3 separate regions of the Homo sapiens genome follow, and regions 1 and 3 are each reported to be linked to region 2. Evidence: microRNA targets listed by miRTarBase, many of them from high-throughput screens and not tested one by one. Region 2 holds a microRNA gene; each other region holds the end of a gene's coding sequence.

Evidence for each region. The annotated mature microRNA hsa-miR-4510 reads UGAGGGAGUAGGAUGUAUGGUU and lies in region 2 at 1,527-1,548, shown strand. An mRNA with a match to its seed (bases 2 to 7 or 8) in the 3' UTR can be bound and repressed. Matches are read on the target gene's strand: a 7mer-m8 pairs with bases 2 to 8, a 7mer-A1 pairs with bases 2 to 7 and ends in A, and an 8mer does both.
Region 1: miRTarBase lists IL2RB as a target of hsa-miR-4510. Seed matches in the 3' UTR shown: 7mer-m8 at 2,523-2,529 and 8mer at 2,171-2,178.
Region 3: the mRNA of CHTF8 is a reported target of hsa-miR-4510. Seed matches in the 3' UTR shown: 7mer-m8 at 587-593.

What each region holds. Positions count from the first base shown.
Region 1 is chr22:37,125,318-37,128,317 of GRCh38, forward strand. IL2RB (interleukin 2 receptor subunit beta) reads right to left here. Exons shown (of 10, transcript NM_000878.5): 10 at 526-3,000. The coding sequence ends at 2,779. Among named protein-coding and RNA genes, the nearest start is that of TMPRSS6, 17 kb to the left of the region's middle. RefSeq lists an enhancer at 1,831-1,880.
Region 2 is chr15:35,925,337-35,928,487 of GRCh38, forward strand. It overlaps MIR4510 (microRNA 4510), which reads left to right and starts at 1,520; the gene lies at 1,520-1,587. All of the region lies in intron 1 of LOC105370766 (a long non-coding RNA gene), which reads left to right.
Region 3 is chr16:69,117,621-69,120,620 of GRCh38, forward strand. CHTF8 (chromosome transmission fidelity factor 8) reads right to left here. Exons shown (of 4, transcript NM_001039690.5): 4 at 390-3,000. The coding sequence ends at 2,805. HAS3 (hyaluronan synthase 3) reads left to right here. Exons shown (of 4, transcript NM_001199280.2): 4 at 1-40. It overlaps DERPC (DERPC proline and glycine rich nuclear protein), which reads right to left. Exons shown (of 3, transcript NM_001002847.4): 3 at 390-3,000. The coding sequence starts at 2,808. The coding sequence ends at 1,234. Among named protein-coding and RNA genes, the nearest start is that of CHTF8, 13 kb to the right of the region's middle.

The DNA of each region.
Region 1 (3,000 bases), not on the chromosome of region 2:
CCCAGGCTCTGCAGGAGGAGAGCTGTGTTCAATTAGAAATGTCTGCCGTGCATGGGTGCAATTGATTAGTAATGTCTGCCATGAGTGTGGCTTTATGAATGCCAGGAATTGCCATCCCTGGTCTGGTCCAACTTTTATCAGGACACTATCTATCTATCATCTATCTACCTATCTGGAGGGAGGGGGATAGAGGGGGGGGGAGAGAGAGAGAGAGAGAGAGAGAGAGAGAGAGAGAGAGAGAGAGAGAGAGAGGAGAGAGAGAGAGATTCGTCATCAAGTGCAATATTTCCCCAGGCATAGACTTGTGGGATATGGCCATGAGCTGATACCTGGACACAGAATAAGACAGACAGTCCTGACTCCTATTAGTGAAAAAGATATTCCCTTTACAATCCTTTTCCTTTCTCTCAAGGAGGAAGTTTGCATTTGGCCCTGGGATGTCTTCGACAGCTCCCCAGCAGCTTCTCATTTCCCCTTTAAGAGACAACAGGTTTACCGCAGGCAATGAATATCAACACTATTTTGTTGCATTGTACTTATTTTGTACAGTTACCTTTTATTTATAGCGAAAATGGGTTTTTTCATTTACAGAGTAACAAAGATTTTTCTTTAAATAAATGTATTTCAACGAAAATGAACTGACTTAAAGAAAAAATATTAAGGAAATAATCACAAAGATGGTACACACGGATCATTAAAAGATACGGATGTATAGATACATATGTCACAAATGATTAAGACTTAAAAAATGTAACCCTCCCAAGAAGTGGGAGCCTCCCAAAGTGGAGAAGGCAAATACAATTTCCATTTGGGGGGATAAGGAGACCGACTTGCAGAGAGGATTAGTAGGTTGCCCCAGAACACACAGCAAAGGTGTGGAGCCCCTTGTGGTCTGAAACATTCAGGACCCTATGGCAGGAGGTGAGACTGTCCAATAATTCAGCTTTTTTCAAGGCATAGACCCAAGACTCAGACAACCTCAAGAAAGGGGAGTTTATTTTGGATATAAAGGCAACAGGAATCCTGACCAAATGGTCAGCAGCCCTCTCAGCAGTAGGTATTTTTGTATTGGGAACCCAAGGTCCTCTGCTTAGTGGCTCAACGCTTGTCTACCTTTCCAAGGCTCAACGCTTGTGGAGCCTTGTCCACAAGCACCTGCTCCCAAGGGCCTCCCTCCCTGAGTTCAAACGCCCAAGACAGAGTTGATCTGATTGGCTAGTTCAGGCCCAGCCTACCTGATTGGACAGAGCTTGGTGCCAAACCCCCTCATAGGCTGCTGGTCAGAGCCTGTGGGGGCGTGTGGTCAGGTGCCCAATCAGCTGTGAGCAAGGCCTGTAAGTGCAGGTGCCTGAGGGCTCCCAGGTCAGAGTTAGCTGGGACTGGGGTCACTGTCCTGCTGGGGTGGAATGTTGTTTGAGCCATTGCAACGTGATCTGCCTAGGAAAGATACGTGGAGGGGTCGGGGTAGGGGGTTGAGCCCCTTGCAGGAGGGGGCATGCCAGACCTAATGGGCACGGGACTCTGCCTCTCTGTGTGAATGTCAGGCGCAGGGAGCCCAGACGAGGTGGTGCCAGGTAATTAATTCGTTCATCCAGGGTATACGACGGGGTGTTGGGCACTGTGTCTGGGGCAGTGAAAAATAATGAGGCCCTGCCCTGTGGAGCTGCCCTTCTGGAGGCCAGTGTGCCAGTCCCTGAGCTGCAGAGGAGACCCCTCCAGTGGAGGGGGCAGTGGGAGGTCCCAGGCCTGGCAGCATCAGGGCCCACCACTAGGCGGGGCTGCTGCCTGGGCCTCGGACTCCAGGGTTTACTCCCCATCAGCTTCTCTTGTGGGTCTGTGAAGCCACTGTGGGAAGATGCAGCAGGCATCCACTTTGTGGGGGGATCTGTGCCCTTACTTGGGCCCCAGCATTAAAGATACAGCAGCCAAGCACTCTGAGGCCTCAGAGATCCCAAAGGAATAGTAACAGGGCCTCTTTCTCCAGGCGCCCTGGGTCCCTGACAGCTTCTCCCTCCAGCACTGACGCTAGAAGTTTCTGGCAGATTAAGGGAGGCAGTGCTTCCCTCCAGGAGAAGCAAAACCGGCACTTGAAGAGTCAGGGAAGTTTGTCACCTAGATGAGGGGGAGCGCACAGCAGCCCCAGGGAATAGCATGTGCAACAGAGGGGGTGTGAGGGAGCTCTGAGTGGCTCAGGAGGACGGTAGGGAGGATTGCAGAAGGGGATGTCCCCACACGACACCGGAGGTACAAGTACCAGGCTGAGAAGTGGGGCTGAGGGCAGTGGGACCTGTGCAAGGTTTTGAACCGAGGGGGAGCGTGGCCATATTTGGGTTTTGGAAAGCACGCTCAGGCTGCCCTGTGGACGGGGAGGGGAGGGAAGGAGGAGGCTGGGGCAGAAAACCCAGGGAAGAGGTCAGGGCAGGGAGCCCTGGAGAGCCGCGAGGACTGATATTGGTGAATAGCTGCAGGGCTGGAGAGGAGCGATGCTTCTGAGCCTAAATTCGTGGGATCCTGTGATTAACGAGGGAGTTGGGGAGTTACTGCCCCCCTGCAACACACACAGTTCCTGGCTCGGGCAGCAGGACCCGGGAGCAGCAGTGGAGGTTTGGAAATGGATGGACCAAGTGTGCAGGACTGGGTGGGGGCCATCCGGGTGGAGAAGTCCAGCTGCAACTGGACACTGAGTGTCCTCAGCAGTGGACTGAGGACCCTCAACAGGGTCCTTCTGAGGCTCGGCGCAGAGCAGGCAGCTGCCTGCCTCCCACCCTGGCCATCTGTCTACACCAAGTGAGTTGGGTCCTGACCCTGGAGTTCTTGGAGGGACAAGTAGGCATCAGTGTTCAGGGGCAGGCGAGCATTAAGGGCCCTGAACTCCCCCTGCCCAGGAGGCCTGGACCAGGGGAAACTGACTCCCTCCCTGGGGCCAGCGTCAGGGACCTCCTCCCCAGCCTCTCGCAGCACCAGCTCAGGGGGTGGCTGAAAATCCACCAGGTCTGGGAC
Region 2 (3,151 bases):
TGCAGCCATAGAAGAGGTTGAAACCTGAGACTATCTGGTTTAAATTAACCTTTCTTGTTACTGGCAGCTACTAATAGATTGCACTTAATCAACTATCGCATCTCTCATAGAGAAGGAGTCATGACCATGTTTTCCTTATTTATTATGCCATCGTGCAGCGGAGAGTGACCCAGAGGTTTATTCTTCTTATGTGACAAGACTGATGAAATCAATCTCACACCATTTTACACTTGTATCTATTGTAATTTTTATACATATTAAAATAAATACCACACACCTGAATTAGGGTAAATGGCTTGCTTATTCGTCCTCTGAGGTGGGCTTTTGTTTTTCCTTACTAGAAAGTCTGAGCGTGTTTCGTTTCTCATATTTGTTTAAATAAAAAAGAAATTTTAATGATACCATGAATCCTCATGATCAGGGAAGAACGATGTGTCAGTTCACCTGATGACCTCACCAGCAAGTAACAGAAAACAAGCAAAATGACTCATACAATGAGGGCTTTGTTATCTTTATTGTCTGACAAGTCCTGTTGTATGTTCCAAGATCACTGACTTCAAGGGCTCAATGAATGGCTCAGGGATCCATTTCATTTCCACATTTTGTTCTGCCATCTTTGGAATGTTCGTGTTTGTCCTTACGTGGCCCCTCACATCCCCAAGTTACTCCAACCTTATATCCTCAACAATAACTTCCAGAGGTGAGAAGATAGACCATCTCTTCCTTATGTTCTTTCATAAAAGTCAGAAAAACTGTACTAGAAATCCACCCCAGACTTCCCCTCACATTTTACTGGACAGAATGACATTACATCATGGACAAGAGAATGGAATTTACATGAGTCATTTCAACCAGAGTTGATATGCACCTTCAGCTGAGAAGGGACTTAGTCTCCTTTGAAGGATATGGCCTACCAAGACTTGAACAAAATCAACTCTTACACAGCACTTACAACAAGGGAGGCACTATTCTAAGAGTTATTAAACATACATAAAGAGATATAGAAATGTGTATTAAATCATTTAATACAAAAATTATATGAGGTGGTTATTATCTATAACTTATCAAGATATTAAGTAACTTAAGGGCCAGGCACAGCGGCTCATGCCTATAATCCCAGTACTTTGGGAGGCAGTGGTGGGAAGATGGGTTGAGGCCAGGAGTTTGAGTCCATCCTGGGCAACATAGTGAAACCCCATATCTACAAAAAAAATTAAAAATTAACCAGGTGTGATTGTGTGGACCTGTAGTTCTAGCTACTCAAGAGGCTGAACCTGGAGGATCCTTCGAACCCAAGAGTTTGAGGGTGCAGTGAGCTATGGACATGCCAAAGCACTTCACCCTTGGTGAGACAGCAAGATAACCTTGTATTAAATAAATAAATTAATTAATTAATTAATTAATTAATTAATTAAGGTCACACTGTTATTCAGTAGTGACAGCAGGGTTGTAACTCAGGTGATCTGGCCCCAGAGTTGTTGCCTTTAAGATGAATACCAGGTTGCCTCTGTGGAATAGTGTGTATGTGAGGGAGTAGGATGTATGGTTGTTAGATAGACAACTACAATCTTTTCTCACAACAGACAGAGCCTGTCATTAAGTAGGCACTCAGAAATGTTCATGGAATAAGCAAAAAAAAAAAAAAAGAAGAAGAATGAATGAATGAATATACCCTTTGATAGCCTCCAATACAGTGTCTTGTATGTAATAGTCATTCAGTGGTTGCTTAGTTGATGGTGTCTCATTGTGTGTCTATTGCAGCACAATTTAAGTAGAGAATTTAGGATATGCTACAAACTGGTCTATCATTTTCCTTAAGATAAATGAGGGGTAATGCTCAGAGAGAGGGCAGTTACCCATGACTGAAGTGGGAGAGACTGACATTCAGGAGTTTGATTTGGGAAACCCTAGAATTCTAGGAAGTGATTGCTGTTTATAAAAATGCAAATTGGTCCTGTTTAAACTTGTCATTATAGAAAAACCTAGCAAGGCTCATATCCTATGCTAAACTCCGCTACAATCTCTATCCAGAAGATGTCTGACCATTTTATATTGTTTTCCAACCCTTTCTTGGTTTGTTCGCTGGAGAGAATCCATCTCATTTACCACAACTCCAAAATCCCCCTGTGTGGAACACAAGACACATCTATGTCCTGCTCACATTGTTTTCTTGAGAGCAGAGAGATGTCAATTGGCTTGGTCCTCTTTTATATGCAATTAGATACAGCTATCATATATTACCTTGTGACAGATATGCATTGTCTCATTCAATATTAAGTAGGGATCCACATGTAGCCATCCACAGTCGTAGACCTGGATATATCTTGTTTCTACTTGGAGAAATTCAATGAATGGCAACATGGATTTACAAATCAATATTAAGAGGTAATTATTCTGCTTACAAATAAATTTGTCAGCTTCCACATCTGTTAGCAGGTCAGAGATTATTTGAGTTCACATTAGAGTGAAATACATAGAAAAGAAACTTAAAGTTTGTATATTATAGAAGATCATTAGGAAATGCCTTCCTTTGACTCTAGAGCCAAAGGACTAATCTAACAATCAATGTCATCAATAACTTTCTCTACAGTATTTAATGTCAATTATTGATTCCCAGAAAAGCAAACCCTGTTCAAAATGTGTTATTTTGATTTATAAGCAATTCATTCACCATATTATTCTCCCTGACCCGCAGTAAGCAAATAGGCATCAAGCCCATGGTTTCCTAGTTATTAAGAATGATAATGTCTCTTACAGATTATCCAATCCAGACCTCTTGTTATATAGACACAGTTAGAAGGCCCAGTTACTATCCCAAGGCTACATAGCTAATAAAATATACAGCCAGAAGGAGAATTTTGGTCTAGAGCTCTTTCCTGTCCTCACAATTAAATAATCAATTTCTTTACATGTCAAAGTCACTACATCTTACAGTTCAGTGCTTACATAACTTTATACCATGCCTTAAATAATATTCCCAAAATACTTATTTGTATTCTTTATATCTGCTTTGATTCCAGAGTACAGAGAGCTCTTGGAGGATGTGATAGATCATATTTTCCAAAGATGGTCACAATATAATTTGCTACTTTACACACTCTTCTTCATTGTGATTTTGTCCTTACACCATTAGAAGTTTATTTTTCCAACC
Region 3 (3,000 bases), not on the chromosome of region 2:
ACTTATTTGTCAAAATAAAGATTCTCACATATGCCGGTTATCTCGAAACTACTACTTTGTATTTAATGAAAGCTAGCTCTTTATTCCAGTTTCCAAAGAGGGACTTAAAATAGAAAGTTTAGTCAGGTGGGACTCAAGACCTGGGCAATATGTCCATCCTGGTAACTACACCCATGGGGGCTTAACTTTTAGTGTAGAGGGTCTTTGGTGAAATAACTAACTGGCAGATGAATGGGCCCTTGCTAAGACTAAAAACCAAAGCTTGCTTCCTCTTGGAGCAAAAGCATTTTAGCCGACATGATGTAAGACTGTAGCCAAGCTGAAACAATGAAAAGCAGAGGAAACTTCCTTCCCTATGAAACAGGTAACAAAACACAGTGACACCAGCAGCCCTCTCATCCCATTTATTAAAGAAACAGTAAGAAAAGATACAATGCAGGAAAACCACCAACCATCCTTGCACACCAGGCCGAACAAAGCACAGTGATTTCTTCCCTTCATCCCCCACCCCCACCCTAATTCCCATATTCCCATCCACATCAGTTTAAATTTTGAGGTTCTTTGATTGATTGGGAGTACCAGTGAAGAGGGAGTTGGATGAGTAGAGGGGCCTTAAATCTGGCCACCTCTAAGTCCCAGGAGAAGGGAGCTGCAGGCCCAGTCAGTCAAGCAGAAACTGCATTCGGTGGGTCTTTCTTTGAAGTGGTTGTCCATCTCCCTGTTCTGTGTTCAAGCCCCCAGGGAAAGGTATGGCAGTAGAGGATGACCAGGTCCAAGCTGCCCAGGTCAGAGCTACGGAAGCATGGTCCGTTCACCAACGCCACGTTTCTAGAGAGCAGTGAGCTGATTCTCCAATGGTGAGCAGGGGACTACATGTGAACTGGGACCTGCAGGCCAATGTATCCCTGAGGAAAAGTCCACAAGAACAATTCAAGAAACTAGTAAGAAACAATGGGCAGAAAGCTGTGGGACGAAAGCACAGCAGGCTTCTGGGAGGCTGGAGATCCTTTCTCTCAAGGGCAGGATTATTCCCACCTGCCACAGTTCACATGCCACAAATAACATCTCACCTTCAGTCAAGAAAAACGCAAAGGAAAAAGATGGCTCATTTGAACTTGAGCCCAAGCTATGTTCTTCAGACTGTAGCTCCACAACTACCCTTTTACCTAAGACAGCCCCTGCCAAGAACCACAGTGCCTAGAAACCAAGGTGGTCCTGGAGGGAAAATGGTGTTTAAGGGGGCAACATTCCATTTGGGTACATTGCAGCCATTGGACCCCCTGGTCTGGGGAAAGCAGCTGGGTTTGTGCCAGGGAGGCTCCCCACTCTAGGAAATGGGACGAAACTCTTGCCTGCAGGGCCATTCATCCTTGGAAAGGAAGCTGGGTTGAGACCCAGGGTCCCAGTTGGCCTTGTGAAAGGAGCTGGGTTGATACCCACAGGGCCAGCTGGAGAAGGGCCCAGATGCCCGGCAGCTGGCCTGGGGAAAGTAACTTGACCAGGGCCTAATGGGCCAGTAGACCTTGGGAAGGTAGTTGGACTTGGACCCTGCAGGCCAGTGGCCCTTGGGAAGTTAGCTGGGTTGGGGCCAAGTGGCCCAGAGGCTCTTGGGAAAATGGTTGGATTTGAGCCCTGGAGGCCAGCGGACCTTTGGAAGGTAGCTGGGTTTGATGCCAATGTGCCAGAAGACTGAGAAAAGGCAGATGAACCTGCTCCCCTGGGAAAGGGATTGGCATTTACCCCCATGGGGCCAACTGGCCTTGAGAAATGAGCTGAATTAGGGCCTATGGGGCCAGGAGCCCTTGACATGGGAGATGGATTTGGCCCTGGAAGGCCAATTCCCCGAGAGCTAGGACCCGAGTTTGGGCCCATGGGGCCAGGTACTCTTGCCATGGAGGATGGGCTTGTGCCCATGTTTCCAGAAGCCTGTGAGAAAGAAGCTGAATTTGCTCCTAAAAGACCTGCTGCTCTTAGAATGGGGGCAAGATCGAGGCCTTGAGGTCCAGCCATTCTTAAGTTAAGACCAGATCCTGTGCCCAAGAGGCCACCTGCTCTGGCATCTAGATTAGGGCCTGGGCCCAGGCCACTTGGTCTTGGGTTGGGCCCAAGGCCTGGGCCTGGAAACACACCTGACCTGGGGGCAGGGTTTGTCCCTAAAAAGCCTGATCTCAGATTGGGGTTTGGTCCTGGGCCCAGGCCAACTGGCCTAGGATTGGGAGGACCATTCCCAGAGGTTAACAGAACACCGGCTCTCAGGTTAGGTCCAGATCCAGGGCCCATGGGACCACCACCTCTGGGGTCAGGACCTGCTCCCAGGAGACCACCTGCCCTTGGGTTGGACATAGGACCTGGTCCTGGGAGACCCCCTAACCTGGGGTTAGACAGAGGCCCTGGGCCTGGCAGAGCCCCTGTCCTAGGGTTTAGGGTGGGGCCTGGGCCTGGGCCTGGCCCCAAGAGGCCACCAGGCCTTGGGAAAGAAACTGCACCTGTGCCAGTGGGATTCATCCCTCTTGGAAAAGAAGCCATACTTGGGTCACGAGCACCAGCCGGGAAAGGTGCTGGATTTGAAGCCAATGAGCCTGATGAAGCTGGAAAAGGAGATGGGTTCCTTGGAAATGGGGTCAGATTTCCACCAAGAGAACCGGCCGCCATAAGGAAGGGATCCGAGTTCACACCCAGTGGGTGGCCTGTGTTCAGAACAGGACCCCCCTGTGGTCCCAGGGAACCGTCGAGCCGTCCTCGAGGTGGCAGCGGAGCACGAGTCCAAGGAGTTGGCCGCTCTCTAGGGAAAATCCGAGGTTCTTTCATACTTTCTTGGGGACGCTGGTGATAATGGGCTTGGGGCGGGTTTTGAAAAGGATCTTGTCTTTGATGAGTGCTGTCACCAGGTACCGGGTGCCAGTCTCGCGGCCAAGCTCATCACAGTCCTGATCCCCAGGAGTGTGTTTGACAAGGACTGCAAAAGGTTTCTCCAGGTGGATGATTTTCCCATACAGGATA